6 separate regions of the Homo sapiens genome follow, and regions 2, 3, 4, 5 and 6 are each linked to region 1. Evidence: fine-mapped expression QTL. A gene starts in region 1. Each other region holds a variant in brackets. All regions are shown on one strand. Distances are between the middles of the regions.

Region 1 (5,067 bases):
AGCTGTGTGTGGTGACGCACACCTGTAGTCCCAGATACTTAGGAGGCTGAGGCAGGAGAATCGCTTGAACCCAGGAGATGGAGGTTGCAGTGAGCCGAGACCACACCACTGCACTCCAGCCTGGGCGACAGAGCAAGACTTGTCTCAAAAACAAAAAACAAAACTGCTGTACACCAAGACATTTGCTGTAGCATTATGTATGTTTCTAAATCATCTAGCTATCGCATAAGAATAGAACGACTAGTAACAATGTATCCTTTTGGCAACACTGATAAAGCAATAAAATACAAAACTCAAATGAGGAGCTACAGCGTACCATGGTAAAGCCTCAGGCGACAGACAGCAAAAACATATCCAATTGCACGAATTACAGAACATGAACACTTTTGCCACACGTGGCTACTGAGCACTTGAAATGTGGCTTGTGGGGCTGAGGAACTGAGTATTTTATTTTGTTTTAATTAACTTCAATTTAAACGGCAGCTCTAGAAGGCAGAGGTGGCTTAACGATATACCCCATTAGGTAAAGATGAAAAGCAGCATGTTGCTTTGGCCGGCAGGTGGGCAGCACTGTCGCTGCAGAGGAGGGTGGCCGCCAGTAAGCCCACTCCAGCAGCCCCACCTCAGGACAATGCAGCCACCAGACTATCCCCCCTTTTACCATGATAAAAGGAAGGTCACCGGGCCGGGCACAGTGGCTCATGCCTGTAATCCCAGCACTTTGGGAGGCCGAGACGGGTGGATCATTTGAGGTCAGGAGTTGGAGACCAGCCTGGCCAACATGGTGAAACCCCGCCTCTACTAAAAATACAAAAATTAGTTGGGCATGGTGGCTCACGCCTGTAATCCCAGCACTTTGGGAGGCCGAGGCAGGCGGATCAAGAGGTCAGGAGTTCAAGACCAGCCTAGCCAGCATGGTGAAACCCCATCTCTACTAAAAATACAAAACTTAGCTGGGCGTGGTGGCATGCACCTAAATCCCAGCTACAGCTACTCGGGAGGCTGAGGTAGGAGAATCACTTGACCCCGGGAGGCGGCGGTTACAGTGAGCCGAGATCGCGCCACGGCACTCCAGCCTGGGCAACAGAGCAAGACTCCATCTCAAAAAAAAAAAAAAATTAAGCCGGGCGTGGTGGCAGGTGCCTGTAATTTCAGCTACTCGGGAGGCTGAGGTACGAGAATTGCTTGAGCCCAGAAAGTGGAGGTTAAGGTGAGCCAAGATCGCGCCACTGCACTCCAGCCTGGGTGACAGAGTGAGACACTGTCTCAAAAAAAAAAAAAAAAAGAAGAAGAAGAAGAAGAAGAAAGGTCACAGGAAGCATTTTCCAAACCCCGAGAGAGATGAAAGAGGAAAAACTAAACATTCTACCTTAATAGCCAGCCCAGAGAGGTCCGCATTGTCTGGCACGGGGGGCAGGCCCAGTCGGACGTCCATGTCATAAGTGCGGCTGTGCACAAGGGCCCCGAAGAGCGAGACCCGGGTGTCTCTCTCGAACCTGTCACCACAAGGGTCACCAAATGAGAAGAGCCCGACGGTGGGCAGGCCAGTGCCTGGAGCAGCCTCCATAACCTGAAGTGTTTCCTGGATCATGCTGTGACACAAACACTCTTCTCTGGAGATCAGAGACTGAACGTCCATCTCAAACACACTCAGGTCGTCGCAATCATAGCCGCTGTACGGAACGTTTCTCCCCACATGCTTGTTGTTAAGGAAGTAGTCTCGTTTTCTCGGCAGAACTTGAGGGGGACCACTCCCTGCCAGCTGAACCAGGAGGTCCAAAACAGACCCCACCTCCAAAAGCGGACAGCAAGGGGCTGCTTCCAGCTCCTCCACAAGCTCCTCCAAACGGTCGGCCTTGGGGCCCAGGCCACCCACTCTCAAGTCAAAGGACAACATGAGGATCTTGTTTCTCGCTGGTAGTTTTGACATGTCAGGCTGCAGCTGTTGAGTCTCATCTTGAAAAAGATTTGTGAAAAGAGCATTGTAGGCCACCTTCTTGAGGCTCCGCTTTGCCCTCTTCCGGTTCACACTGCGCTGGCCCAGGTGAGTCTTGGCAGCCGGCAGGAGGGCCTCACACAGGTCGTCGAACAGCTGCGTGATGCTGGCCATGCCCCTTCTCAGCTCCGGGCCCCCGGCGTGTGGGAAAACACCTCACCCGGGCTTCACTCACGCTCCGGAAGACAGGGAGTGAGAGAGGGTCCGAAGAGGCTGAATGACAGGCGGCCTCTCCAATGCCGAAGCTCAGAACTGGTATTTTTTAAAGGAGGTCTTGCGGTTGCTCTACTCAGAGTAAACACGCCCTGCCCTCCCCAGTCCAAGCACGCTGCCCGGCGCCCGGCAGCCCACCAGAAGCCAGCTCGGCGTTTCTTCTAATTCAGTAGCCCTCAACCTTTAGGGAGTCACAGAACCGTGGCAAAACCGAAGAACGAAACGCGCGCCCGCGCAGTACAGCGGACGAACTCGGCTTTGCACCCGTTCTTCGGGACCCACGAGAGGAGACGGCCAGGAGAGGGTGCCACTCCGAGGGTCGTGGGCAGCGGAGAGTCTGGGGGCTCAGCCGGGTGGGTCCCGGGTTCTGGCCTGCACGTCCACCCGTTCTCCAGGCCTCACCCGTGGAAAGTGCCCACGGCTGCCGCTCTCGCCGCCTCCGTCGCGTCACAGCCGCGCCAGTGTGAAGAGCACTAGGGCGGGCGCGCCGGAAATACGTCACGGGAACGCCGGCAGCGCGTGAAGTTGGTGAGGCCTGGGCCGCGGCATACTTCCGGCCTGAGTCCGGCACCGCGGGTGAGAGACCGAGGCCGAGCGTGCTCAGTAAAGGAGGCAGAGCCAGCGTTTCGTTTGAGCGATGTTTACTAACGGCGCAAGGGCGGGGAGCGAAGCGCAGCGGGGCGCAGGGGCCGGAACGGGACCGAGCGTGGGTTGCATGGGCCTCGATGGGACGGGCCGGGGCGCGATGGGTGGGGCGGGGGCGAGGTGAGGTGAGGGGTGGAGCGGGGGAAGCACGGGTGGGAGAGGGCGGGGCGCGGGGATTGGGAGTGGGCGGGGTTCCGTGCCCCAGAGTCGAGGGAGCCGTGGGCTTGGGGTCCGGATCGCGGCCGCGGGGCGCTGGCGTGCGGTGTCATTTCTGCGGTGTAAATGCTCCCACCTTGGCCGATTTCAAGCCACCAGGTGAGGATGGCACTACAGGAGGAGCCGAGAAGAGGCGCGCAGTTGGCCTCCGGCGCTGGAGCTGGTTCAGGGCACTCCCCTGCCCTGCCCTCCCCACCGATCTGTGCGGCAGAGCCAGGCCCCAGGGCAGGGCCATGCCTCCGCAGTCAGCCTCACCTGCAACATCTTCCACTGAGGCTCCAGCTGCCCTCTCAGGTACATCAGGGCCTGGACGTCCTCTGGGGAGGCCACAGAGGAAGGGCCTAGGCTAGGAGGTGCCTCTCCATTCAGCACCCGGGCCAGGATCCCTGCTAGCTGGGGTGTGGAGTTCTGGACCAGGGGCGAAGACGGAAGCAGTCACTGGTCCTTTCCCTCGTCCCACCCCGCAGCACCTCCACCCTGCCCAGCTTACCTCCTCCAGGAGGGCCAGGACTCGGCCCCCTGCCAGCCCCCGAAGCATTGCAGCCAGGAGTGCAGCGTGGGGGCCCTGCAGGCCATGGCCAGGCCCCAGCGCCACCAGCACCAGGTCAGGCTGGAAGCCATAGGCCAGGGGCAGCACCAAGCCCAAGATGCAGCTCAGGAAACCACCGGTCATCTGTGGGGACAGCAGAGCCCAGCTCCTCATCTACGGACACCTGCTGGCTCTGGCCTCCCAACCTCCCAATCTCAGGGCCCCTGGAGTAGGAGCAGGGAGACAGGAAGGACCAGAGGCCTGCTATCATGACAATGCCAGCAAACAGCAGCTGTACACATCCATGGGCTCCCCAGCACCTGCCTTGCCGCGTGGCATGGTCACTCACCACTGGCAGTGGCGTGGAGACATGGAACATGGATAGGGCAGCCGCCTCCTTGCCCCTGATGTTCAGCCACAGACTCCTCCTTCCAGGACACAGGTGCATAAGTGTAAGGCCCTGCTCACCCTCCTGAGCCCAAACCGCAGAGGCAGAGGTGGAAGAGCATTCACGGGGCCATGGGCAGGGGTGCTGTGACTGCTGAGCCTCTGTGCTGGAGACCCACCTGGCATTGCCTCCAGCAGCCCTTCTCCCACACCCCAGCTGAGGAAGGCTCCATTCAGTACCACACAGTGCCCCACCCACCCGTCACCCTGGGGCCCAGGCACACGTCCATCACATGCCCGTCCACATGCATGGCTGGACATATGCAAGACCTGAGAGTCCTACCCGTCATGGGCGAGGTCTGGAGGCCGGTCCAGCTGTCCCAGGGCCACGCACAGCAGCCTGGAAGAAGAGCTGGCCTCAGGACAGGTGTTCATGTTGTCCAGAGTCCATTCCCAGAACTCTCTGTGCTTGGCCAGCCAGGATAGGGGTGCCCACAGGTCCTGCCGTCAGAGGCTCAGGATGGCCAAGTGAGGCTTACCTCTGGGCTCCGTGGGACAGGCCTCTCCGAACAGCCACATCCAGGGTGGCTGCTGCAGCAGAGGCTGGAGTGGCTGCTATACCACTGTTCACCTGTGGGATGAATAAACAGTGGAGAATGAGGCACCAACCAACTCCCAAGCCAGGTAAACAGATCCACAGTTCCCTTCATTCGGTGTGTCTCTGCGGCTACTGTCAGCCACACATCTTCTTACACTAAGGTCAATCACTCCATTTCTGTAAATAAGATGCTTACGTCTATAATTTTTTTTTTTTTTTTTAGAGAGGCAGGGTCTCGTTCTGTAGCCAGGCTGGCGTGCAGTGGCGCAATTGTAGCTCACCACAGCCTCAAACTCCTGGGCTTAAGCGATCGTCCTGCCTCAGCCTCCTAAGTAACTACAGGCACACACCACCACGCTTGGCTGACTTTTTTATTTTTTGTGAAGACAGGGTCTCCATATGTTCTCTAGGCTGGTCTTGAACTCCTGGGCTCAAGCGTTTCTCCCACCTTGGCCCCCCAAACTGCCGTTATTACAGGCATGA
Region 2 (5,067 bases), 25 kb before region 1:
TGCTGAAACTACTGGAGACCCCTTACCACTGCGAGGCGGGGGCCGCCACAGACGCCGAGGCCACGGAAGCCGACGGGGCGGACGGCAGGCAGCGCTCCTACAGCAGTAAGCCCCCGCTCTGGGCAGCAGAACTGTGCGTGACATGATCTTCGTAACGGCCTCGGCACGCTCCACACCCCTGGAGTCTCCCGAGGCCCCCATGTGCTGCTGAGTGGCCAAGATGATGCCAGGCTGCCCTATACACTGGGGGATTCTGCCCTGGCCCATGCACACCCGTCTTTCCATGATGGCAGAGACATCCAGTCAGGACCTGACCCGTCTCTGTCTGAGGCCGGCTCAGCAGTGCAGCCTGGTCCCTGGGGGCTGGACCCAGGCTCCTAAATAAACCAGCAACTCCCTCGAGTCTGTCTCTGTGGTCATTGTTCCCCCACCCTGCCCTGTCCTCAGCCCCCACCCAGGAGAGAGAGCTGCAGACAGGGTCCGAGAACACCTTTATTGTGCACGTCCCCCGCAGAGCAGCCTCAGGCGTCCTGGTAGTAGTTGTTGAAGTTGATGCGCAGCAGAAAGTCCTCCAGGTGGGGCTGGTAGCCGCGGTTCACCAGCTTGGTCACCACTGGGGACCAGCGAGCAGCTCAGGCTTTTGCCCACAGTGTGAGCCCCGCCCTGGCCCCCCCGCAGCCCTCCCAGCCAGGGTGGGCCTCACCTTTGAAGAGAAAGTGGGAGTAGTACTTGAAGGTGTTGTAGGACTGCTGCATGAGTGCAAAGTTGGGGTGCTCTGCACCCCGCGGGCCCCCAGGGGGCCCCCAGGCCTGGGAGATGAGCTGGCTGCGGAACTTGAGCACGAGGCTGAAGATGCTGTGGATGACGTTCATGACGGGCGCCGCCTTCTCCGTGAGCAGGCCCCTGGGGGGAAGCAGTGCTGCTGGGTGGGCTGAGCCGTGACCACAGGGACGCAGCCGCTGCCCAGGCCTCACCTGAAGACGGCCTTGTGCAGGTACTCTGCGTGCGCACGCTGGATCTCCTCCAGGTCGCCCACGGTGGCCAACCTGGCCCTGAACTCGCACCAGGTGACGTGCAGGATCTGGTTGGCGATGTAGCCCTGGATGACCTTCACGAAATGCTGCATCTCGTGCTTGAACAGCTGCAGCTGACGGAACTGCACAGAGCCGGCCATGTGGCTCAGCAGGGCTGGCGGAGGGCAGAAGGCAGAGGGCAGAGGTGAGCGCAGCCTCCAGCCAGGGGTGCGGGGCGCCGGGCTCCAGCGGGGCCTCACCTGTGCGCTTGAGGTGGAAGCAGACGTCCTTGAGCGCCCACATCATGAGCTTCAGCTGCAGCAGGAAGGAGAAGACGCCGCTGTACTTGCTCACGCAGCCCTCGGTGATGACAATGTTGAGAGGCCAGTCCACCTGCCAGGAGGCGTGGCTCAGCAGGCATCCCACAGGCAGGCAGGCCCCTGTCCCATCCCCCGCGGCCAGGGCTGCTGCTGACCTTGTACCTGAGCTCCAGGCAGCTCAGCACATCCGGGGCGTTGGGGGCAAACACCTCGGGCAGGTACTTGAGAGCGAGGGAGAGGTTGGAGGCGTGCGGGGTGTCCCCATGCAGGCTGCACTGCAGGGCCTTGCTCAGCACAGAGTTCAGCACCAGCGGGTTGAGCAGCTCTCCGGGCGTTTGCCCAGCTCCAAGCTAGGCAGAAAAGGGACCACCGTCCCCAGGAGTCCCAAGCACATGCCTGGCACTCGCCGGCACCCCATGGGGCTGTGCCAGAGCAGCAGGGGGCTGTGGGCGTGCAGCCAGTCTCTCTTTTCCCACGGCCTCCCCTCTACCACTGGCCCCACCCCGTGTCCGGAGGCCACCTTCTCAAAGAGCAGGTCGCTGAGGGACTGGGCGAACTCGCCGTCCTCCATCAGCAGGAAGTGCCGCAGTGCCTCATAGTGCGCCTCCAGGTGCAGCTCCACGAAGAAGTAGTCGACAGCGGCCTTGTTCACCAAGGAGATGCTGGCAGGAGGGAGCTGGAGTCAGGGCGGGCCAGGACGGGCTGGGTGGGCAGACTGGCGCAGGGGCAGGGGCACTCACTGGGCGGCCAGCGGTGCCGTGATGGAGCGCTTCATGAGCACGGGCAGCGTCAGCAACTCGCTCAGCTGCACAGCAGTCTCATCAGCGGCAGACTGGACCTGGGGGTCCACGGGGAAGGCGAAGGCCCGGGGAAGCACGGGGCGCAAAAGATGAGCAATGGGCGGCTCGGCTGCGGGAGATGGAGCACGCACGTGCTGGGAACCGGCCAGCCCAGGGCTCCGCCCCCATCCACAGGAGATGGAGCACGTGCTGGGAACTGGCTAGCCCAGGGCTCCGCCCCAACCCACAGGAGGTGGAGCACGTGCTGGGAACCAGCCAGCCCAGGGCTCCCTGCCAACAGCAACTGCTGCACTCACACATGGACTCGTAACTGTCCGGGTACCGCTCCAAGTGGTACTGCCCTGCCAGGCCTGCCAGGTAGGCCTGCTCCCCACCCTGAGCCTCCGCCGCCGATGCCTCCGCCTCCTCACCACGGCCTGGGCTGCTCTGGGCAGCTGTGTCTTCCTAACAAAACACCAGCCTCAGAACCACCTCCCCACTGCACGCTGTCCCCACAACCAGCTTGTGCCAAAAAAAGGAAAATCGCATGTGGGACCCACCCGCGTGACAACCTAGAGGGACAGAGCCCTCCCTGCCTGCTGTGGGACCCCCAGGCTGCATCCACCTAACCTGTGAGTTGAGAGGCCAATTTGGAGAGAGGTCCTCAGTGTCCCCGCTCCTCCCAGGGCCTGTGTGGACACAAGTGGACACGAGGGCATCAGGGCCGAGTGCCTGTGGCGGGTACAGAGCCGAGCCGGCCCTGGCTCAAGCAGCCCCTCCCATGTCCCCCACAGCAGCCCAGGTCCTGGCTGAC[A/G]AGGAGGCCTGAGGGGAACTTCACATGCCACCAACCCCACTGCCCGCCTACCTCCCAGGCTCTGTGCGTCCCACAGTCCCACTCCTGACCACCAGCCACCCTACTCTGACCTAGTTCTTCAGAGACACTGTCTCCCGGGGTGTTGGGCCACCATGGTTGGGTGGGAGCCACGTCTGACACGTTCTCCCCCACGCTGATGCTCCCCTCCCCGCAGCCCGAGCTGGGGGAGGACAGAGATGGCCCCACTTCTACAGGCAGCCGTGGCCCACAGTCCAGCACAGTGCTCTGTGCTCCCAGGCTGAGCGCTGACTGGGACGTGTGGCCAGGGGGGCTCTGTTGGGGCCTGGGTGTGTTGGGCTCAGCTTCTGGTGAGAGAGCCCCCAGCACCATGTGGGGCGGAGGGATGGGTACATGGGTGTTCCACCGTGGCCGGGTGGAAACCACATCCGACACAGGCTCCCCCAAGCTGATGCTGGCGTCGGACACGTGTCCATGGGTGTTGCACCGTGACCGGATGGGAGCCACGTCCGATACGTTCTCCCCAACCCTGATGCTGGTGTCAGACACATGTCCGTGGGTGTTCCACCGTGGCCGGGTGGGAGCCATGTCTGACACAGACTCCCCCAAGCTGATGCTGGCATCAGACACGTGTCCATGGGTGTTCCACCGTGGCCGGGCGGGAGCCATGTCTGACACAGACTCCCCCAAGCTGATGCTGGCATCGGACACGTGTCCATGGGTGTTCCACCGTGGCCGGGTGGGAGCCACGTCCGACACGTTCTCCCCAACCCTGATGCTGGCGTTGGACACGTGCCCGTGGGTATTCCACCGTGGCCTGGTGGGAGCCACATCTGACACATTCTCCCCGACCCTGATGCTGGCGTTGGACACATGTCCATGGATGTTCCACCGTGGCCGAGTGGGAGCCACATCTGACACAGACTCCCCTAAGCTGATGCTGGCATTGGATACGTGTCCGTGGGTGTTCCACCGTGGCTGGGTGGGAGCCACATCTGACACATTCTCCCCGACCCTGATGCTGGCGTCAGACACGTGCCCGTGGGTGTTCCACCGTGGCCGGGTGGGAGCTATTTCAGAAGCGTAGTCCCCTGTGGGAAGACCACCCCCTGACACCTGCCCAAAGAGCCGCTCTGTGGGCTGGCTGCTCCCCTCCTCCAGAGCAGCACGCCTGGGTGGGTGTGAGGGGAGCAGAGTCTCCCGCGAGGCGGAGCCACAGGCATCCATCTTCCCACAACTGTCCTCCCACAGCTGTAGCCCTGAGCTGCCCAAGCTGCACTCTGCAGCCTGCAGGGGCCCTGGTGCAGGTGAGGTGGCCACAGCTGGCCTCAGGACAGTACTAAAGTCGTACTCCTGTGGCCTGGAGGGCTGAGTGCTGGCTGCTGCGGGTGCCTCCCCAGGAGCTGAGGGGGGCAGGTCCAAGTTAATGGTCTGCAGCGCCACCTCCAGGAGAGGGACCATGCCAGTCTGCACGGACGGCTCAGCCCCTGGGCCCACAGGTAGGAAGTCTCCAATGCTGAGGCTGTCAGAGAAGGGTCTGGCCCCCTCCGCCTGCTGCAGCCCCCTGCCACCAGCCCCCACTGCTAGAGGCTTAAGGGGCTGTGGGGTCAGCAGGCCTGGCCTGTTCCAGCCATCCCAGGCAGGCGAGTGTTGCTCTGCAGACCCAGAATCACAGCCTTGGCCTCCCTCTGGGTGCTCAGGGCCCGGAGACGTGACCTGAAACACAGGTGACATCAGACCCAGTCTGGTCTCAGGACCCCCCAGCCCTCGAACTGTCCCCCAAGTTCAGCTCTGCAGCCATGACCAACACCAGGTGCCGAGGGCTATGGGAAAACCATAGGGCACCCTGGGTTCCACTCTGCCGCTTACCTGGGGGTGCACGCTCAAGAGGACGTCTGGCGGCTCCTGGGGCTGGTGAGCCTCAGACACTGCTTTCAGCATCTCCTGAAATTCAAGCCAGAGGGGTGACTGGCCAAGCCGGAGTCAAGCACAGCCCTACCCCACACAAAGCCACAGCCCCTACCGCCCATGGCAGCCATGTGCACTGAACCAGACAAGGCTTGTGCTGGGCTCCAGTGGGACGCTGGGCCTGCAAAAAGTACTCCAAAACCACGAGCTCCTCA
Region 3 (5,067 bases), 190 kb after region 1:
CTGACAGTGAGAGACCCATGGCCACCTCTGTCCTCTCACTTCACACATCACATCTCTCCTCGTGGGGGCCTGGGTCTCATGTGTCAGTTCTATTGGGCGGACTTCTGTGGAGACCCTGCCAGGCGTCAGCGTGTGGCACAAGAGACAGTCCCTCCCGGGGTAGTTGGTGACTCCGGAGCTGGCACTCAGAAGCCGTTAGCGCCACCGGGCTCCTTGCAGCTCAGGGAGCCCTGCCTGGCTAGGCTGTCCTGGCTGTGTGCTCTGCACTCAGGTGATTGGAGAGTCTCATTCTCACTCAGGTGTGAGATTTCGTAGCACAAGTCTCAGGGGAGCAGGTTGCAGCCTGTTTCTTAAGAACGCAGTGGGTTAGGTGGGCGCAGGCACAGCACATGTGTGGCAGAGGCGGGCCCAGCTGTGGCCTCTCCTCCCTATACCCGTGTAAGGTGAGGAAGCTCTGGATAGTCCTCCCCGCACCCCAGGACCATAGTGAGGGGACTCCTGGGTTGGGCTCCATTAGCCCCTGGCGAGGTCAGGCCTGCCGGCTGCCATCACAAATAATAAAAGCAGGGCAGGAGGAGCTTCCCCACATCCTGGAGGGCAAAGTAGATGGGTGGAGGTGGAGGCCAGGGACAGCTCCCCAGGGCAGGGGCAGTTTAAGGAGGCGAGGGGCAAGCAGGAAGCTGTTGGATCATTCCATACGATCTCCAGATTGTGAATCCTTCCAGGACTCTGACCTCCCCGGAAAAACAGGCAGGACACGCGCCCAGGCCTGTAGGCTGCTGCTGAGTTTGGGCCTGTGAGGTGGGGGGAAGGAAGCTGGCTGCTTTCTCAGATTCTGTTCCACGGCTTCTGCGTTTCTGGGAGTTCCTCAGAATGGGCTTCCACCCAACAGACTTGGAACTCAGATGCCCACTGGGGTTTCGGTAGGGGCAGAAGTGCCCACCACCCTGCCCACAGGTGCTGCACCTCAATCTCACTGTGGCCCCAGGCCCCTCCGGACACGCGGCTATGCTGCCTCTTTCTCATCCGGCAAAGCCCCTGCTTCAGGCCCTCAGACGGGCTGACCACAGTAGCAGCGCCCCATCCTCCCGGACCCAGGATGCACCTGCCGGAGCCCCCGGGTGCCCTGCACCATCTGCACGGGGTCTCCCAGGGCTCACCAGGCAGCACTTCCCTTGCAGGGCTCCCTGCGGACTGCCGTGGCCGCTGGGAGAGCTTCGTGGAGGAGACGCTGACGGAGACGAACCGCAGGAACACTGTGGACCTGGTGAGGAGGCTCGGGGCTGCCCCCTCGGTGCACGCACGGTGCTGGGACGCCGTCAGACGCTCCTGCCTTTGCCCTGAGGCAGAGGCCAAGGGAGGCACAAGGGCCGCACGCCTGCCTGCTCCTCTTGACTATGCGGTGCCCCTGCATAGTGTGTCCTCCGGGCTGATGTCCGTAACAGAGACCCCGTCCTGTGCCACACCCAGGGCTGGGTCTCTGAGGACCTCTGTGCAGAGCCGGTGTTGGCCTCAGGTCCCTTTCCTCCCACTCCAGGAGCTGTAGCTTGTTGGCAGAGGGCTCCTTTTGCCTGAGACCCACAACCTGCCCCCTGCACATGGAGGTCGGGCTGTCACGGGGCCTTGGCCTCACCTAGGCACCTCCTTACACAGCACGGCCTCCTGGGCCCAGAGATCTGATGAGTGATGTGCTGGGTGGGGTCTGGGAGCCCTGGGCTGGGCATGGTCCTGGGCGCTGGGCTGGGTGGGGTCTGGGGCGCTGGGCTGGCTCACACGCCCACCCCATCTGGCCTGTGTTTTAGGTGAGCACTCACCACCTTCACTCCTCAAGTGAGGACGAGGACATTGAGGGTGCTTTCCCTAACGAGCTGTCCCTTCAGCAGGTGAGGGCGTGGCCGGCACCTGCACCCTGCCGGGCCCTTCCCGGCACCTGTGTGCGCTGCGCTTGGTCCTCCAGACGAGTCTGATGGCATCTCACTAGCAAAGGGGAGCGGGGGCTCGTCTCCGAGCACGTATGGGGCGGGGTGGGTCTGAAGGGAGAACCCCAAAGTCACTCCACCTTGATGAGAGCACTGAGGACACGGCAGATGGACTCGAAAGTCAGAGAATATGGGGCGTATCTCAGATGTGACCGCAGCGAGCGCGCAGCCTGAGTTTTGGTAGAATCGTGAGCCCTGAACAGAGTTTACTGCCCACTTGTGCTGGAGGAGAAGCTCCCGAACAACTAGAGAGATTGTGGTTCCCAAAGAGCAGCCTCCAGGCCTGATGCCTCCTCCATGACCGGTGTCTGTCCGTCCCTCCCTCCCTCCCTCCCTCCCAGGCCTTCTCTGACTACCAGATCCAGCAGATGACAGCCAACTTCGTGGATCAGTTTGGCTTCAATGATGAGGAGTTTGCCGACCAGGACGACAACATCAAGTGAGTCTACTTGGAGCGCACTCTGCACGAGGCGCGGCTCTCCCTGCTGCTGAGCTCCCGTGGAGGCAGCTCCCTGAGGTCTTGCCGGGAGTGCCGTCTGATGTCCCCGGGAGACAGCAGGTGTTCCCAGTTGTGTGAGGGTGCTGAGGCCCCCGATGAGCACCGGGGGAGGAGCACTGAGGCCCCAGATGAGCAGTGGGCCTGGAGGAACGCTGAAGCCATCCCCCTTGCTCTTGCAGTGCCCCGTTTGACAGGATCGCAGAGATCAACTTCAACATCGACGCTGACGAGGACAGTGTGAGCAAGCCGGGCTGTGTGGGGTGCCGCCACCCTTTTCCCAGGCAGCTCAGGCCATGCCCATGGCTCGGTCTGTCATGGGCCTGTGCGGTGGGGCTGGGAGAGGCCCCTCTGTGGAGCTCGGAACAGTCGCTTTCCTTGCCCCTCCCCGTCCTCCCCTCCAGCCCGGGGCTCCCACATCCC[G/A]AACTAAGCCCCTCTGGGAGCTCTATGGGGAGAGCGGCTCCTGTCTCCCCCAGACCCTCTGGAAACTCACCTTGGCGTTTTACTCTGCAGCCCAGCGCAGCTCTGTTTGAGGCCTGCTGCAGTGACCGCATCCAGCCCTTTGATGATGATGAGGACGAGGACATCTGGGAGGACAGTGACACTCGCTGTGCTGCCCGGGTGATGGCCAGACCCAGGTGCGGGGCCTGCCCATCCCCACAAAGCCTCTGCCGAGGAGGTTCAGCCCCCAGAACACCTGTCAGACGCCCTGTGGTTCGTTAGCTGGCTTGCAGAGCAGCCACACCTGTCCTGCCAGCTCTGGGGCCCAATGCAGCGGGTGACCCTAAGGAGCCCAGAGCTGAGGCCTGGAGCGTCTCGTGCTCCTCTCTCGAGACGATCTGTGCTCACCCTCAGCCCCGAGCCTGGGGCCGCCACTGACCCTCCATGTTAGGCGTCCGTCCTGGGCCACCAGACATCTGACTCTGAATCTCCCCCAGGTTTGGAGCCCCCCATGCTTCAGAGAGTTGCTCAAAGAATGGCCCAGAGCGTGGAGGCCAGGATGGGAAGGCGAGCTTGGAAGCACACAGAGATGCACCTGGGGCAGGTGCCCCACCGGCCCCCGGGAAGAAGGAAGCGCCCCCTGTGGAGGGTGACTCAGAAGGTGGTGCTGGGCGCCAGGGGCTGGGAGTGTGGGTATCGGGGACAGGACATGGTACCCCGGCCTGGGTGTTGTGGAGGCTTCATTTGGAGCTGAGGCATTTGGGGCTCACTGTGGCCCGGAGCCTGAATCCCCAGCTATTTCCCAGCCGTCCTGAGTAGGGGTCTGTGCTGCGCTGTGCCCAGCGCAAGGTGGCCTCCTGCCCCTGCCTTGCAGTTGTGGTCACTCAGCCACGTTGCCAAGGCTGGTGGGTGGTGTCCACCTAGTCTCCATCGTCCGTCCAGCCCCCACACAGTCAGGCACAGGCCTGACGCCCTCCCCAGCACAGCAGCACAGGCCGGCCGCCACCTTCATGGCCGACATCTATGGCAGGAGCCAGTCCACCTCACAGGCCGCATGGCTGATGAGACCCCTCTCCTTACCCTGCCCTGGGGGCAGCACTGAGGCACTCAGGACTTTGGTGGCGGGGGCAGAGATCTCTGTTAGGAGGGGCTGAGCTCTTCGCTGACAGAGCAAGGGTGACACCCTGGGGAAGCAGGAACATCCCAGATAGGAGGAAGACACCCCATCCTCGAGGCCAGGAAGGGGCCAGTGGTGCTCGGTGAGCTGCCGGCTCTGTGGGTTGCGGTCCTGGGTAGGACAGGGCAGTGGCATCACCTCCACACTGTCAGTGTCAGTCCTGCTGGAGGCCTGGGGGCCCTCAGGCACCTGACTGAGCCCCAGGTCACACGCCCCATGGGTGTCGGCAGCTTGTCAGGACCCTCGAGCTGTCCCCTGTTGCTCCTTGAGGGGCTGACGGGCACTGCCTGGGCCTCCCTCCTGGAGCAGCCCCATCTTCCTGTCAACCTCTGAGGGGCTCCCGGGGCAGGGGCGCTGCCTCCCCTTTGCCTGCAGCACCCCAGGCCTGCCCACGCCTGACCACTGTGTCTCTCCCCCAGCAGGCGCCATGTGGACGGCAGTGTTTGATGAGCCAGCGAACTCAACGCCCACAGCCCCAGGAGTGGTGAGGGACGTGGGTTCCAGTGTGTGGGCAGCTGGCACCTCAGCTCCAGAGGAGAAAGGCTGGGCCAAGTTCACTGACTTCCAACCTTTCTGCTGGTAACAAATGCGCTGGCAGGAGGGGGCTGTGCCAGGAAGTGCCTGTCAGGGCCAGGAGGCACCTGTCCCCCAGGACTGATCCTGTCCTCGTCCTTGTATGCAGCTCCGAGTCAGGGCCCAGGTGCAGCTCTCCGGTGGACACAGAATGCAGCCATGCTGAGGGCAGCCGGAGCCAAGGCCCTGAGAAAGCCTGTGAGTAGGAGCAGTGCAGGCGGCACCCAGCCTTGCCCAGTTTAAGGCCTGAGGCCAGCTGGCCCCCCTCCTTGGGGGCAGTGGGAGGAGGTGGCCGGGGCCTCGCATGCTGCTACGTCTCTGGTGACATTGGGGTTTGATACAGCAATGGGACTGGAGCAGCCACGTGTAGATGGGGAGGCCCCCAGAGGGGAGGCAGCAAG
Region 4 (5,067 bases), 300 kb before region 1:
AGGGGAGGGCAGAACTAGAAGGGACCAGCGCATAGGGACCTGGGGGTGCTGGCACTGAGGTCTCTGGGCCTGGGATGCTGACCTTCCCGGAGCCCTGAGCTGGGCCAGGACGAGGTCTTCCCATCAGACTTGCCGCTGGCTAGGTGACCGGCCTGTCTCACAGATGAAAATATATTCTGAGGCCCAAAGGGGGCCCAGACCCTGACTTTGTGGCCCAGAGCCAGGTTCTCCCCATAACCAGCAGGCTTCTTTACCCACAGGCCACTGTCCACCCAAGCCCCGCAGGCAGGAACCCTTGGTATTGGGTGGCCCTGAGCTTGGGATTTGCCGCTGGCTGTGTGGCCCTTCGGAGCCAGTCCGGCACACCCGCAGGCACACACACATGCGCACTCGCATACAGCCACAGATTACACAGGCACCAGCTTCCCGGGAATCCATTTGTCATGCAAATGCCCCTCCTGGGGCCCCTTGCCTCCCCAGAGCTGTGTCTGTCCAGGGTGGGGCCCAGGTCCGTGGAGTCCTGCAGTTTCCTGGCCACAGCTATTGGCAACTGAGGGATGTCTCTCCAAAGAGGACCCAGATCCACGTCCAGGCTTGCCTGGGACCCGATCCCTGCCCAGTGCGGGGGCTGCAGCCTCAAGGCCCAGTCTGGCCACCGCCAAGTCCACTGGGAGCCAAGTGTGGGTTCATTCCCTCGTGGCTTCTGGTGCACCAGTGGGGTGGGGGGCCAGGCCTCTTTCCCTCCTTGGCTGCCTCAAAGCAAGAGGGAGGGACTCTCAGCCCTGTGCCCACCGACAGGCCCAGTCTCCATTCCTCCTAAAGCCCCTCTATGGCCCCCCAGCCCTTGGAGCTGAGCTTGTGAGAGCCGTCCCCTACAGGGTGGGCTCGGGAGGCAGAGCTGTGAGCCTGCTCCCCGCCCACCCAGAGCCCAGCTGGGGCAGACCCAGGCATCCAGGCCGGCAGGGTGAGCCTGTGCCCAGGTTGGGCAGCCCCCTATGCTGGGGGTGGCCAGGCTCTGGGCCTAAGTGCTGCCGGGAGACAGGGTGGCTGGGCTCTGGGATGCTGGCTGAGGGACACAGGCTCCCTCCTGTCCTCCGGGGCCAGTGGACCCTGGGGCAGCCCCCATGCCTGCTGTCCTGTCCCCACACAGCCTGTGAAGCAGGCTCCAGGCACACATGGGGGCCACGGGGGCAGGTGGTCCAGACGGCTCTCAAGGCAAAGCTGGGAACACTGTCCCATCCCTCTGGAACCCGCCCTGGTGAGGGGTGCAGGGGCCCTCAGTGGCCACCTTATAGGACCGGGCACCGGGCACTTCATGAGGCTGTCTGCTCGGCCACAGCAGCCCTGCTGATGGAAGCCAGCCCTGGGCCCACTGCAGCTGAGCCACCCAGGGGCCTGGCCACCCAGAGCTTCCCTGATAGGCTGCGCTGTGCCCGGAGCCCCCCAGTGACTGTCTCCTGCCCAGCCAGGTCCCAGACCCAGGGCAGCCTGCAGGACCCCAGGCCTCCACTCCCGCCACCTGAGTGTCTGTTCTGCATCTGCCCCGCCCCTGCCTACTGGCAGCCGCAGCCCTGGGCGGGCCTCAGCCGTCGGCTTTCTCAGGGTGTCTGGGTTGGGGCGGGCAGAGCTGCCCTCTGGGGGTTCCCGTGGTCCCCTAGAGGGTGGGCTCAGCGGCATCAGCTGCCAGAGAGGCTGACCGGCCCTCATGGCTCTTGACGGTATGTGCAAGAGTTTGCCTGGCGTGGTGGGGGGTGTTGCTGGCCAGGAACTTTCTTGCCATCGTCTTTCTTGGTGTCTGTCTCCCCTGGGTTCTCTGGACCCTGTCAAGCCTGTATGCTGAGGGTATGCTGTTACCAGGTGGCAAGGTGTCTCAGGCACTCCTTCAGGGTGAGCAGTCAGCTCCTGCTGCTGCCAGGGCAGAGGTGCAGAGAGCGGGGAGCAGCTGGTGGTGCCGGAACCCACAGCAAACCCCCCGCCCTCCAGCCCTGCCCCTGACACACCCCCGATGGCCTGGCGGAGCATCCCACCAGCCCAGCAAGAGGGCTCCTCTCCTCACCTGCCCAGGTCCCCTGGGGGAGGGGCC[G/A]TCCCTGTCCCCGCTGTCCCCCAGCCCTGGCCAGGGCTGTCCTCAGGGTGGGGAAGGCAGGCCCCCGCCACCCTCTCAGGGCCTCAGGCCTGGGGCAGGCCAGAGGGCTGGGTGAGGAGCCCTAGCAGGGCCCACCTGCAACTCCCACTGGCGCCCCAGAGAGACTCCGCACCTAGGAAGGGCCTCGGCAGGGACCAGAGCCAAGCCCTGCCCGCTTGGCCTCTGCCCCAACCCAGATGTACTGAGAAAGCCCAGGGCTGAGGCCCGTCTAGGGCTGCACCCGCCTGTGGACAAGGGCGGGGCAGATGCAGGACAGGCACTCAGGTGGTGGGAGTGGAGGCCTGGAGTCCTGCAGGCTGTCCTGGGCCTGGGGCGTGGCTGGGCAGGAGAGGAGTCGCCAGCAGGGCCGGGCAGAGTAAGCCGCTCTCCCTGACGGGGCTCCTTGGGTGGACTTGGTGGGGTTGCCAAGGGGGTGGCCAGGGCACGAGTGCCACACCCAGGCTGCAGCAGGGACAGCTCCACATGGAGGCCCATGGGCACTGGAACCCCTGGGCGCGTGCCCTGGCCTCGCAGCCACCCTCCCGGCTGGCCCCCACACCACGGCCGCGTCCCAGGACACGGTGTGCAGCTGGGAACAGGGCGTGTATTTGCTTAGGGCGCCCAGGAGCTGCGGCCTGTAGGACAAGGGCCCATTGTGTGCCCAGCTGCCCCACCCCCGGGCCTCTCCACGCCCCTCGAACCCCGTCCACACGGCCCCCCACACATGACACCCTCCGCCAACCCTGCTACCCAGCCCTCTTGGCCTGTGCCCCCACCCTGCTCCTCCACCATCGCCCCTGCCTGCGTCCCCGCAGCCAGTCCTCCATGTTTCCTCACTTCCCACCCTGACACCCCTCCACCCACCAGGACCCAGGTTCTCCGAGCAGAGGATCAGATTTCCGGCATTGCTGCCCGGGCTCCACGCATCCGGGCCTCGCTCACGGGTCTCTCTATACACGGGTCTCCACTATACAGAAGGCCGATCAGTGGCCCCTGCCCCTGGAGCAGAGCCCCTCAACCGGCAGGGACACAGGCTTCCCACTGGAGGGGCCCTGGGGAGAAGTCCTTGGCTGGAGAGGGGGGTGGGCCGTCAGAAACTCCCCAGGCGGGTCCAGCATGCTGGGGGGCAGCACAGGCCCAGGGCTGGGACCCTCTGCAGTGTGGGTCTCGCAGTGTCCCCCCGCTGGCCAGAGGTGAGGCCTCAGGTGTGGCGGGCACAGGCCATGAGAGCCGCACCTGCCCGAGGGCCCTGGCTGTTGGACTTTCCACTCTAGAGGGGCTCAGGGGAGGCTCTGACACCAAGGGAGCTGGACCTCCTGCACCGTCCTGGGGACCCAGGCCCTCAGGTCCGCCAGACAAGCCCGGCACAGCCACTGCAGGGCCTCATGTCAGGCACACCCCTCCCGCCCTGCAGTAGCACAGGGGGATTGGGGTCACCATCAACCACGGGGAAGCACAGAGGGGTGGGGGGATGTGGGGGACAGGGGGGTATAGCGGGGGGAGGCGGGCATGGGGCCTGGGCCAGGCTGTGTTATGGGGGAGCCGGTGCAGGGGGTGGGGCCTGGGCCAGGCTGTGTTGTTGGGGGTAGTAGGGGTGGGGCCTGGGCCGGGCTGTGTTTGGGGCTGTGGTGCCTGGGCAGGGCTGTGTTATAGGGGGGTGGGGGGGTGGGGGGCCTGAGTGGGGCTGTGTTTGTTGGCGCAGGGGGGTGTGGGGCCTGGGCTGGGCTGTGTTGTCAAGGGTACACTGGCTGATGAGGGAATTCTCTACCCAGCTAAGCAAGTAACTAGAAGGACCGGGCCCAGCCGCCTGCTGGAGCTGCCGGGGGTCCAGGGGCAGCCGCCCTGCCAGGCCTACTCTACGGCAACACGGAGCGTTTGCAGCAGCTTCTCCCAGGCCCTGTGGGCCGAGGGCTCAGGAGTCCAGGGCAGCGCAGGACGGGCACAGCTGGGGGCCCCTCATAGCCAGAAGGGCCCCTGGTGAGGCCAGGCAGAGGGCGGCTGCCTTTCCACAGTCCATTCGCCCACTCAGCCACATTTGGGGGTCTCTGCCCACCGGGCTCCACCCTCCTCCCACTCCCCACCCCAGCTATGACATCTTCTCGTGCCAGCCTCACAGGGGCCTTAGACTGGACGGCAGCGTTTGGCTCGCAAATGAGGAACCGAGGCTGGAGGTTACCGGGACAGGGGCGGGGAGGCTGGTGGGGGCTGAGGAAGGGTGTTGGGAGGCTAAGGTGGTGCAGAGGAAGGGGGTGGAAAGGCTAGTGGGGGACTGAGGATGGGGGCGTGGAGTCTGGGAGGCTGAGGCCAGGGGCGGAGATCTGGAGGGCTGAGGATGGGGGAAGGGAGCTGGGAGGCTGGCTGACTGAGGACGGGGGCGGGGAGGCTGGGGGGCTGAGGACAGCTTCCCGGCAGGCCTGGCTGCGTGGGCCCCTCCTCAGGCCCAGGGCCGGCCAGGTAAAACCAGCCTGACCGGGTGCTGCGTGTGAGCCTGCGTCTGTCTGCCTACTTGTCATGTGTGCTGTGGACCGCGGCCAGGAGGAGCTGCGTGCGTCACAGCAGTGCCCTGTGGCAGGAGGTTGGGCGGGGGCCACCTGCGCGAGGCCCACCTGCCCAGCCAGGGCGGGGAGCAGGTACCAGCAGCCAAGATTTCAGGGCTGGGCCCCAGGGGAGGGCAGGGCCAAGGCCCAGGCAGAGCCCCTCCACCTGTCTTCACAGGCCAGGATGCAGAGACGGGTATCTGGGCATCGAGTGGAGACCGAGAGAGGCAGGGAGGTCACCAGGCCCCATCAGGAGGCCAAATTTGGCCTGGGGCCTGGCCCTGAGTGGGCTAAGACTCAACTCCATACCTCCCACCCCTGGCTGTGCCCACCCACCTCAGCCCAAGGGTAGCTGACCAGTGCCCTCCAGAGCCCTGAAACCCTGGGGCAGGGCCAGTTGGAAGGGCC
Region 5 (5,067 bases), 44 kb before region 1:
GAGGCCCGAGCAGGTACTGACCCCTTGTCCTTCCCCACAGCCGAGCCCAGGAAGTGCGTCCCCTCCGTGGTCGTGGGCGTCGTGGGCATGGGCCACGTGCCTGGCATCGAGAAGAACTGGAGCACCGACCTCAACATCCAGGAGATCATGACGTGAGTGCCCGCCCCTCCCTGCAAGCCCCACCCCACAAGCCCCCAGGTGGAGGCTGAGCGCCCTGGAGGCCAACCACATGCGGCAGTGACCCAGGCATGGGGGCTGGGGTATGGGGAGCCCACCCCCAGCCAGGCCCAGCGCCCCCTCCCTCCCACAGCGTGCCCCCGCCGTCCGTCTCCGGCAGAGTGTCTCGGTTGGCCGTGAAGGCCGCCTTCTTCGGCCTGCTGGGCTACAGCCTGTACTGGATGGGCCGCCGCACCGCGAGCCTGGTCCTGTCGCTGCCCGCCGCGCAGTACTGCCTGCAGAGGGTGACCGAGGCCCGGCACAAGTAGGAGACTGCTCCCCGCCCGCTCGGGCCCCTGAGGAGCCAGTGCCCCCGCGGCACTTCTGGGTGCCAGGTGCATCCTAGCCCGCCCGAGGCCCCTGCCACCCCCCATGGGGGTCTGGGCCCGGCCTCGCCTGCCCTCCTGGGCCAGTCACCCCTCCCCCAGCCCACCCAAATAAAGGATTATTTAACTGTCTGAGCTCAGGCCTCCCGGCAGCCCCTCCCCTCCCACACTGCAGGGGCCGTTCCCCAGCTTCTGGACAAGACACCCAGCTCCGAGGGGGCAGGGGCTTATAGGAGGGGCCGAGGCGTGCGCTGCCCTCTCAGCCCTGGTGGCAGGCGGGGGACAATGGCCACTGTCCCTACCTCACTGTGCCTTCCTGTGCTCCGGCCACAGGAGCGTCGGCCCAGGGGCGGCTCCTGGGGGCTCCAGGGCAGGCGAGACTGGGAAAGGCCCAGCCCTGGAGCTCCAGCCGACCCCACCGTGCCCCTGGCATCCTGGCCCTGGCCGCCACCTCCCTGGCACCGTCTGCCTGCAGGGATTCTGTGTTTTTGGCTTTTTTAATGTCTTAAAATCTTTTACTCAGGTAATTTTAATTTCAGAGAGAAAAACTGAAGTAAATGTCAAAAAACACCAGCCTTAAATCCAAAGGGAGAGAATTCGTGTTCTTGGGTCTGTCCCGAGTGGGCTCGCGTGCAGCCAAACATCAGCTCTGGGTCCAGGCGTGGCCTCAGCTGGGAGCCTGTGTCCTGAGCCCCCGGAGCGAAGGGGTGCCTGGGGCATCTTGGCCCTCTCTGGGCAGACAATGTGTGCACCTATGTGGAAGGCCAAGGACATGGGCTGTGGCCAGGCCTGTCCCGCTCAGGCCCCCTGCCCGGCGGCCGTCTGTGTGCGGGGCCTCCCTCCTGGCTGTCCAGGACACAGCCCGTGCAGCCCCAGCCTGGACCCAGGCCATCTCTGGTTGTGTCTGTGCCGACTCGGTGTTGAATCAAATCAGGTGTGCGTCAGGAGCCGGCTGTGTCCTTCCTGCCACACTCGGGGATTCATTCCTTAGAAACTGAAATAAATTCTAATTTTGGAAACTCCTGTTTTGTGACGTGTGAACATGGGGTTCAGGTAATGAAGGATCCCTGCCTCTTCCCCCGTGCTCCAGTGCAGCGGGTACTCGTGGCCCTGCCGGGGCCCTGGGGGAAGGAACCTGCCTGGTTTCCAGCAGAAGAGACAGAGTCGGGTCCCTCCATGCTGACCTGTGGGACCCTTCTCACCCACCAGGTGGGACGCAGGTGGCCTGCTGACACTCAAGACCCTCCATACCCAGTCCCACCAGATTCCAGAGTGTGGACCAGACTGAGCCAGACTGGGGCCCCAGGGGGTCGAGGAGACAGATCAGGAGGGCCCAGGGCCTGGGGAATGGGGAGGGGTAACACCTGCCAAGGAGGATGCTGGGAACGGGCGCCCAGAGCGGCCGGGGGGAGGGGGCTGCTGAAGAGGGAACGGTTGCTGTGGGCTGCAGAGGAGGGTTGGGCACGGGGACCTCACCACATTATCCCTCATCCAGTTACCTGCCCAACGCACGCGGAGGGTCCTGAGGGCTTCACCCGCAGCCCCAAAGGGGCAGAGCTGGGGTCACGCAGAGTCTCGGAAGCCCACGCTGTGGCCCCAGGAGAAGCTTCTGGATGTAGCTCCTGTATGTGAAGGGTGGGCTCGCGCCGCTGCCGGAATAAAGGGAAACCACAGGCAGGAGGGAGGCGCGTCCAGGATCCGCGGCCACCGGCCTCTCAGACAGTCCTCTGGGGCCGGGGCCGGAGGAGATGGAAAGCGGGGGCACCACAGACTCATCTGAACCCCCGCGTTCATTCGGACACACAGACCCCAAATTCCTCCCCCAGGGGTCGGGTCCCTCAAGCCAGCCGAAGACCCCGGTGCCCGCCCAGCCCTCCGGGAGGGTCTGCGCCTGCGGCCTCGCGGGGCCTCTCCGAGCCCGGGCGCTGTTCCATGGGCGGGGCACAGATCCAAGGCCCCTTCCCTCCTAGACGGCAGGCGAGGGGCCCGAGAGGCCGGAGGCCAGGGGACAAGGTCCCCGAGAGGCGGCGCGAGGCTCCGGCGGCCCAGAACCGCGGCGGGGTCCGGGTGGGGTCCCGGCCGCCCGTGGGGCGCGGGGCTAAGCCCCGGCCCGACCCGAACGGACGCGGGCCTCGGTCCCCGCTGCCGGCGCCGGTGCAGCCGAGGAAATCCGGGGCTGCCCGAGCGGGGTCGTCGCTGGCGGTCTCGGAGGCGTTCCCATCTGTCACCCCGTTCGCATCAGCGCGCGCCCCGTGACGCCGACAGCCACCCCGGACGCCTCCGACCCTCCGGCCGGGAGATGCGGATAGACGGACGAGGCAGCCAATTAGAGCCCGGCCAGACACCGCGACCCC[T/TC]CCCCCCACCCGCCCCACTCTCGCCCACTGGCGATTGGGTTGCGGGACGCGCGGGGCGGGGCTTCCGGGCGGGGCAGGCTGGCTTCCGGCGGGAGCGGGGCCGCGGATGGCCGTATACAGGGCAGCGCTCGGGGCTTCGCTCGCGGCTGCCCGACTCTTGCCCCTCGGTCGCTGTTCCCCGTCGCCGGCGCCCCGCTCTACGTTGTCGGGCGCCGCCATGGAGCCCGCGCCTCGCTGGCTGGCGGGGCTGCGCTTCGACAACCGCGCCCTGCGCGCCCTGCCCGTGGAGGCGCCGCCGCCCGGTCCCGAGGGCGCCCCGTCCGCGCCGCGGCCCGTGCCCGGGGCCTGCTTCACCCGCGTGCAGCCCACCCCGCTGCGGCAGCCGCGCCTCGTGGCGCTGTCAGAGCCCGCGCTGGCGTTGCTGGGCCTGGGCGCGCCGCCCGCGCGCGAGGCCGAGGCCGAGGCCGCGCTGTTCTTCAGCGGCAACGCGCTCCTGCCGGGCGCCGAGCCCGCCGCGCACTGCTACTGCGGCCACCAATTCGGCCAGTTCGCCGGGCAGCTGGGCGACGGCGCCGCCATGTACCTGGGCGAGGTGTGCACGGCGACCGGCGAGCGCTGGGAGCTGCAGCTCAAGGGCGCCGGGCCCACGCCCTTCTCCAGGTGGGCCGGGGCGGGCGAGGGGCGCGGGTGGGTCCTCCCCGCCGGGGCGCCCCTTCCCTCCGCCCGGCGCGGTGTTGGGGGCGTCCGGCGGCTACTGCCAAGTGGGGCCTCCCCTGCACCCGCGGGAGCGCGGTGCTGGCAGCCGCCCGCGCCCTGTGCTTATCAACCCGCCGAGGACCTTGGAGTCAGCTCCACCAGGGACGCCGCTCATGTTTACCGACGTTCGCTGGGGCTCCAAACCCAGGGGCGGGAGCCGGGATGAGAGGTTAGGCTAACCCTAACCCTAACCCCGCAGGTCCCCAGCCTTCCTCCGATCGCTCGTGGGGCGGGCCGCTTCGTCCAGCAGCCTCGCTCTGCGACTGACTTCACGGAGGCCTGGCCCTGACTTCCCTGCGGGCAGCCCTTTTTAACCCCGAAGTGAGGTGGGCATCGTTTAGATTTCTGTGGGGGGGCACACAGGTGGTCTAATAAGGCAGGATCTGGGTCCAGATGCCGCCAGGCCCACCGGGGAGCCGTGCACGCGCCACCTGCCTCCTGTGTATAGACAGCGCTTGGGTCTGTTCTGCTCTTTTCTACTAAACAATGTACTTACTCCATATTCTTTACTGCTTTTGTGAATGACTAGGAAAGTGTACATTTTATGTTCAGAGAAATGCTAAACCCGCATCTCATCCGGCCCCTCCCTGTGCTCTCATCACCTCCCCCTCCAGCACCTGAAATGCCCCTCGGTCCCTCAGCATCCCTTCCCCGGGGCTCCATCTCCCAAGCAAGCTCCTCAGACTGAGGGTCTTCCTCACTCCCCCGTCTCCAAATCCGTTCTGTTCTGTGTCTGAGGGCAACCTGGCTCTGGCTCTCCCTCCCCACCCCCAGCGACCTGCTTAGAGTTGACAGCACCGGCCGCCCACTGGAGCGTTTCTGACCCTTGGAACGTGGTGGAAATGCTGCTCAGCCTGGGGCCTGCTTGTCCTGTGAGCATTTTTTTTTTTTAATTTTTGTTTTTCTTTTTGGCGATCATCTTAAACTTTATGTTTTCATTTTTGGTGATATTTTAAAGTTAAAAAGACAATTTTTTTTATGAGAGTAATCTGTCGCTGGAAGACACTTTTTATGTTTGAAGACTTGAGTATTAACTCACTGCTTTCAGACCTGAGAGCTGCTAGAATATATTTTCTCCTAAAAATTAAGGAGTCCTTTGACCTTTACTCAGGCCCTGCCTGACATCCCCACACGTGTCCTGGGGTCCCTGGCCTCACCAGTTCTCCAAGATTGAGGCTAACGTCTGAAGTGGCTGTGAGAAGGAAGAGACTTGAACAGTGAAAACTGAAAAACATGAAGAAAATAAAGAAAACATAAATAAATGGAAACATCCCTTGTTCGTGGGTTGGATAACTTAATATTAGAAAGACAACGGTACTCTTTGAAGAGATTCAGTATAGTCCTTATCAAAATACCAATGACAGTTTTTGCAAAAATAGAAAAACCCATTCTAAAATTCACATGGGGTCAGGTGC
Region 6 (5,067 bases), 170 kb before region 1:
AGGCGGCGGTGCTCAGACCCTGGACCCCATCGAAGGGACTCGGGAAAACAGGCCTGGGGCAGAAGTAGCTTCCCATAGGACACACCCACCCGTGCCATGTGGGTTTGCCATTGCCACGGCAACACTGGACGTCACCACCCCTTTCCGTGGCAATGATCCAACCACCTGGACGTTAGCACCCCTTTTCTAGAAATTTCTGCATAATCTGCCCCTTAATTAGCATATACTTAAAAGTGGGTATAAATAGGAGGCAGAGCTGTCTCTGAGCTGCTGCTCGAGGCACCTGCCGGTTGGAGAGCCCTGCTATACTGCCACTGCAAACAAAGCTGCTGTCTGTCACCTCCAGCTCGCCCTTGAATTCTTTCCTGGACAAAGCCAAGAACCCTGCTGGCCTAAGCCCTGGTTGTGGACTCATCTGCCCGGCACCATCAGGGCCGCAACCAGCACCGCCAGACTCAGGGAGGGGCCGCAACCAGCACCGCCAGACTCAGGGAGGGGCCGCAACCAGCACCGCCAGACTCAGGGAGGGGCCGCAACCAGCACCGCCAGACTCAGGGAGGGCTGGGGAAGAAACACACGCCCGAAAACCTGCTCCCGTGAAGGATCTCTGTGAGTCGCAAACACAGAGCTGTGGCCAGCAGGAAAGCCAGGCATAAGGAGTGGGCCAGCAAGGGCTTGGGGGCCGGAAGGGACCTGGGCAGCCAGGCCTTGCGTCCAGAAGGCACAAAACTCCAGATGCACAAATAAAGCTGAATTCCCAGCCAGGCACGGCGGCTCATGCCTGTAATCCTAGCACTTTGGGAGGCCGAGGCAGACGGATCGTGAGGTCAGGAGTTTGAGTACAGCCTGGCCAACATGGTAAACCCCGTCTCTACTAAAAATAACAAAAATTAGCTGGGCGTGGTGGCGGGCACCTGTAATCCCAGCTACTCGGGAGGCTGAGGCGGGAGAATCGCTTCAACTCAGGAGGCAGAGGTTGCAGTGAACCAAGATCACACCACTGCACTCTAGCCTGGGCAACAGCAGGACTCCATCTCAAAAAAAAAGGAAAAAAAAAAAAGAAGCAGAACGGAAATGGAACCTAAGAGAGGACTGAAATGCTAAATAAGGGGAAGTGAAGGCACTGGGAAACACACACAGACACAGTCAAGCACACAGGAGGCTGTCCCATTGTTGGAGTAAAAAGGCAAAATGTCACTAAATGTCACAAGCTAGACAACAAGGCCAAGGCGGAGGGAAGGGGGACAGACCCCGCATGGTCTGTTTATCAAGGAGCGTATTAGAATATGAAGGGCAACCCCCAAAAGAATACTGAAAAATTTCCCATCCAAAATTAGAGGGAAAAGGAAGGACGGAGCCTCTGCCAATTCAAAAGAAGGCAGGGAAGGAGGGAAAAAGGCAAAATCAGGGAAAATGGAAAACTCAAAAGATGGTAAAAATAAGTAGAAATTTATCAGTAATAACTCTCAGAGGAAATGGGCTACATTCAAAAAGCTAGGGAGAGAGAATGACAAGATAAAGAACAAAATACAGTTACGTGCTGCTTATAACAATTATACCAAAGTACAAGGCAAGAAAAGTTGAAAGTAAGAAGGAGAAAGAGGCCAGGTGCGGTGGCTCACACCTGTAATCCCAGCACTTTGGAAGGCCTGGGTGGGTGGATCACTTGAGGTCAGGAGTTCGAGACCAGCCTGGCCAACATGCCGAAACCCTGCCTCTACTAAAAATAAAATAATTAGCCGGGCGTGGTGGCATGTGCCTGTAGTCCCAGCTCCTCAGGAGGCTGAGGCAGGAGAATTACTTGAACCTGGGAGGCAGAGGTGGCGGTGAGCTGAGATAGCACCACTGCACCCCAGCCTGGCTGATGGAGTGAGACTCCGTCTCAAAAAAAAAAAAAAAATTCCTCGGGGACAACAGTGTCAACTCACCTACGGCAGTAACAAACTCCCCCTAAAAATTACAGGACACCAGCAGCACCTTTCGCGATAAGGAAGGTTATTACCAATGATACCAATAACAGACTAGAGTCTCCACAGATGAGGCGCACGCCGCCATGCGGTGTAGACAGCCAACTCTTCGCCAACTCGGAATCGAAACGTGACGTTTAATCCAGCCTCAGTCACCCCCGACAGAGTATGAGAGAAAAGAGAAAGAAGGGAAGTTTTCTTACTGAGTAAGATTTCAGGACCCGAGCAGGAAATGGCACTTCGTCCAGAATGTTGGCGCTGTCAGACATGGAGCCCTACGAAGAAACAGAACTGTCACCCCGGGTGCACGGGCACAGGGACTCAGCACTGCCGCTGGCATCCGGCCGCCGTGGGCAGTGGGTCAGGTCAGCCTGCCGTGTAGATGCGAGACCGCCTTGGAGGCGCCCGTGGATCTTTGGGCTTGAGGAAATGTTCACACACATTGTCCTTGCATATGAAAATTAGCAGATGTGGTGTCTCCTGGTGATCCCCTGGGGACGAGCACTGGACTGAGTCAGGCTTAGGGGGAGGGGAGGGTACAGCATCTGTCTTCACCTCCCTGTAGCCAGCGGCCGCCAACCCCTCACCCAGCTCCAGAGCCCCTCCTGGCCGGGGTTTCTGAGACCCAGGAGAGAGGGGTCTCATGGGAATGCCCTGGAGCAGCCCAGATCGGCCCTCCGAGGGTGACGCTGAGACCCACCTCGCTCACCCTGGGGTGATGCCTCTGCACCCCCTGCCCTGCGGGGTCAGAAGCTGCACCCACCTTCTTTTTCTTGCAGTCCTCCTCGCTGGACCGTGCAGCGATGATCACCGTGGCCGCCATGAGCAGCTCCAGCAGGAGCAGCAGGATGAGGTTGAAGTTGATCTGCCAAGGGGCACACACGCTTCAGCACCGGGCCCGCCTTTCTCACGCCACCGCGCTTCAGCGTCCACCGGACCACCTCACGGGCAGGCTGCGCAGGACTCTCAGCCA[C/T]GGTCCCCACTTTTCCCATCCAGGGCCAGCTGTGAGGCACTGTGGGCTGCACACTCTCCTGCCTCACATGGGCCTTTGGGGTCTTTTAGTTTTTAAAACCATTCTTAGTGCAAAGGCTGTACAAACACAGGCCAGGGCTGGATTTGGCCTTGGGCTCTGGTCTACCGACCCCATTCTGAACGCTCCTTGTTCCCACAAAAGCCTTCACGGAATGTTTAGAGTAGCTTCATGCATGATTGTCAAGCACTGAGAACATAAGGTTTTTTGGAGGGTAATGAAACGACTGCAGGCCCTGACCGTATTGGCAGTGACATGAATTTATATGTGTGTTAATATTCATAGAAGCATACATTTTAAAAAGTCAGTGTAGCTGTCTGACAATTTTTTTTTTTTTTTTGAGACGGAGGTTCGCTCTTGTTGCCCAGGCTGGAGAGCAAATGGCGCAATCTCGGCTCACCGCAACCTCTGCCTCCTGGGTTCAAATGATTGTCCTGCCTCAGCCTCCCGAGTAAGCTGGGGTTACAGGCACCTACCAGCACGCCCGGCTAATTTTGTATTTTTAGTAGAGAGGGGTTTCTCCATGTTGGTCAGGCTGGTCTCGAACTCCTGACCTCAGGTGTTCCGCCCACCTCGGCCTCCCAAAGTGCTGAGATTACAGGCGTGAGCCACCGCGCCCGGCCTGACAATTTTTAAAATACATTTAAAAAAGAAAGAGTGCAGAACCACATTCAACTAAAAACAGAGCCTCGAAATATATGATGTCATAACAGAGCCACAGGAAGATGTAGATATATCAGTAGAGGTGGGGAAGGACTTGAAACACTTTTCTTAGAAACTGACAGATCAGGCAGAGGGAGGCGGCTCACGCCTGTGATCCCAGCACTTTGGGGGACCGAGGCGGTTGGATCACCTGAGGTCAGGAGTTCCAGACCAGCCTGACCAACATGGTGAAACCCCTTGTCTACTAAAAATACAAAAATCAGCTGGGTACGGTGGCGCACGCCTGTAATCCCAGCTACTCGGGAGGCTGAGACAGGAGAATTGCTTGAACCCGAGAGGCGGAGGTTGCCGTGAGCCGAGATGGAGCCACTGCACTCCAGTCTGGGCGACAGAGCGAGACTGTCTCAAAAAAAAAAAAAAATGACAGATCAAAAAGACAAAAGCATAAGGAGAACTCTAAAATTCAGAAAAGTGTGACATTAACCTTGTCTTTTATTTTCTGTATTTCTGGTGCTTTGACCTCTGGCTCCTTCCTGATCCTGAAGAGACAGCTCCTCCCAGGGCCAGCCGACAGCTACAGTGAGTAACTTGCCTCTGAGCAGTTCAGATACAAGCCACTGACCCAGGGACCACACCCCATCTGCTCTCCGTCTTAATAAAGAAGCGTCACAGGCCGGGCGCGGTGGCTCATACCTGTAATCCCAGCACTATGGGAGGCCGAGGTGGATGGATCACCTGAGGTCAGGAGTACAAGGCCAGCCTGGCCAACATGGTGAAACCTTGTCTGTACTAAAAATACAAAAATTAGCCGAGTGTGGTGGCACACGCCTGTAATCCCAGCTACTCCAGAGGCTGAGGCAGGAGAATTGCTTGAACCCGGGAGGTAGAGGTTGCAGTGAGCCGAGATGGCGCCACTACACTCCAGCCTGGGCGACAGAGCGAGATTCCTTCTCAAAAACAAAACAAAACAAAACAAAAAGGCAGTGTGGGTGTTCCCACTGGGTCCTCCTGTGTCTGCTCATTTTTCCTGCCCAACGAGAGTGGCCAGGACATACTCAAGCCTCCTCCAGCTTTCCCCAATCATCAAGTGCATTCCACATGTCACACAAAGCAGGAGGCCCTCCTTGCAGTATCTCGGATGAGGTCCTGGTTTCCTTTGGGATTTTTGTCTTTTTTTTTTTTTTTTTTTTTTTGAGACGGAGTCTTGCTCTGTCTTCCAGGCTGGAGTGCAGTGGCGCCATCTCGGCTCCCACAACCTCTGCCCCCTACAATTTCACATTTTTGTTTAGAGGTGCATTGAACAACTGTCTTACACAGATTGGATGAAACATAGTATTATGTCACTGTTAATTTTTAAGGACTGTTGGAAAAGACATTGTTTACCAATAAATCTGTCCCGCAGAATCA

Direction of the effects. Positions count from the first base shown, and alleles are read on the strand shown. Sizes are in standard deviations (SD) of each study's normalised expression. Not every link is listed here.
With allele T in place of C in region 6, the expression in gastroesophageal junction of the gene that starts at base 2,674 in region 1 is higher (large effect, 0.76 SD a copy in GTEx).

The links.
Region 2: its variant is fine-mapped to the expression of TUBGCP6 in whole blood (TOPMed, PIP above 0.99).
Region 3: its variant is fine-mapped to the expression of TUBGCP6 in whole blood (INTERVAL, PIP above 0.99).
Region 4: its variant is fine-mapped to the expression of TUBGCP6 in anterior cingulate cortex (GTEx, PIP 0.96).
Region 5: its variant is fine-mapped to the expression of TUBGCP6 in whole blood (INTERVAL, PIP 0.99).
Region 6: its variant is fine-mapped to the expression of TUBGCP6 in gastroesophageal junction (GTEx, PIP above 0.99).

The regions. Positions count from the first base shown.
Region 1 is chr22:50,242,350-50,247,416 of GRCh38, forward strand. It overlaps TUBGCP6 (tubulin gamma complex component 6), which reads right to left and starts at 2,674. Exons shown (of 25, transcript NM_020461.4): 1 at 1,370-2,674. The coding sequence starts at 2,110. HDAC10 (histone deacetylase 10) reads right to left here. Exons shown (of 20, transcript NM_032019.6): 15 at 4,526-4,617; 16 at 4,330-4,386; 17 at 3,949-4,027; 18 at 3,561-3,743; 19 at 3,326-3,478; 20 at 2,834-3,181. The coding sequence ends at 3,158. RefSeq lists enhancers at 1,263-2,193, 1,767-2,046, 2,457-2,506 and a silencer at 2,977-3,046.
Region 2 is chr22:50,217,215-50,222,281 of GRCh38, forward strand. SELENOO (selenoprotein O) reads left to right here. Exons shown (of 9, transcript NM_031454.2): 9 at 1-402. The coding sequence ends at 155. TUBGCP6 (tubulin gamma complex component 6) reads right to left here. Exons shown (of 25, transcript NM_020461.4): 15 at 4,814-4,888; 16 at 3,037-4,660; 17 at 2,743-2,801; 18 at 2,430-2,577; 19 at 2,074-2,242; 20 at 1,854-1,995; 21 at 1,489-1,683; 22 at 1,274-1,406; 23 at 975-1,188; 24 at 704-903; 25 at 480-613. The coding sequence ends at 522. Among named protein-coding and RNA genes, the nearest start is that of SELENOO-AS1, 9.6 kb to the left of the region's middle. RefSeq lists an enhancer at 2,381-3,023. The variant A/G (reference allele first, on the strand shown) is at 2,927.
Region 3 is chr22:50,435,186-50,440,252 of GRCh38, forward strand. It overlaps PPP6R2 (protein phosphatase 6 regulatory subunit 2), which reads left to right. Exons shown (of 24, transcript NM_001242898.2): 14 at 1,182-1,267; 15 at 1,803-1,883; 16 at 2,321-2,418; 17 at 2,658-2,715; 18 at 2,989-3,113; 19 at 3,414-3,577; 20 at 4,516-4,672; 21 at 4,776-4,864. Among named protein-coding and RNA genes, the nearest start is that of MIR12114, 30 kb to the left of the region's middle. The variant G/A (reference allele first, on the strand shown) is at 2,899.
Region 4 is chr22:49,946,784-49,951,850 of GRCh38, forward strand. No RefSeq gene overlaps it. Among named protein-coding and RNA genes, the nearest start is that of PIM3, 11 kb to the right of the region's middle. RefSeq lists enhancers at 38-625, 3,558-4,145, 4,146-4,731. The variant G/A (reference allele first, on the strand shown) is at 2,084.
Region 5 is chr22:50,198,035-50,203,101 of GRCh38, forward strand. It overlaps TRABD (TraB domain containing), which reads left to right. Exons shown (of 10, transcript NM_001320485.2): 9 at 41-152; 10 at 311-1,561. The coding sequence ends at 485. It overlaps SELENOO (selenoprotein O), which reads left to right and starts at 2,977. Exons shown (of 9, transcript NM_031454.2): 1 at 2,977-3,556. The coding sequence starts at 3,003. It overlaps TRABD-AS1 (TRABD antisense RNA 1), which reads right to left and starts at 2,749. Exons shown (of 2, transcript NR_186698.1): 1 at 2,042-2,749; 2 at 1,054-1,294. RefSeq lists silencers at 2,297-3,236, 3,367-3,446 and an enhancer at 3,807-4,046. The variant T/TC (reference allele first, on the strand shown) is at 2,897.
Region 6 is chr22:50,074,671-50,079,737 of GRCh38, forward strand. It overlaps MLC1 (modulator of VRAC current 1), which reads right to left. Exons shown (of 12, transcript NM_015166.4): 6 at 2,731-2,832; 7 at 2,171-2,242. Among named protein-coding and RNA genes, the nearest start is that of MLC1, 8.2 kb to the right of the region's middle. The variant C/T (reference allele first, on the strand shown) is at 2,941.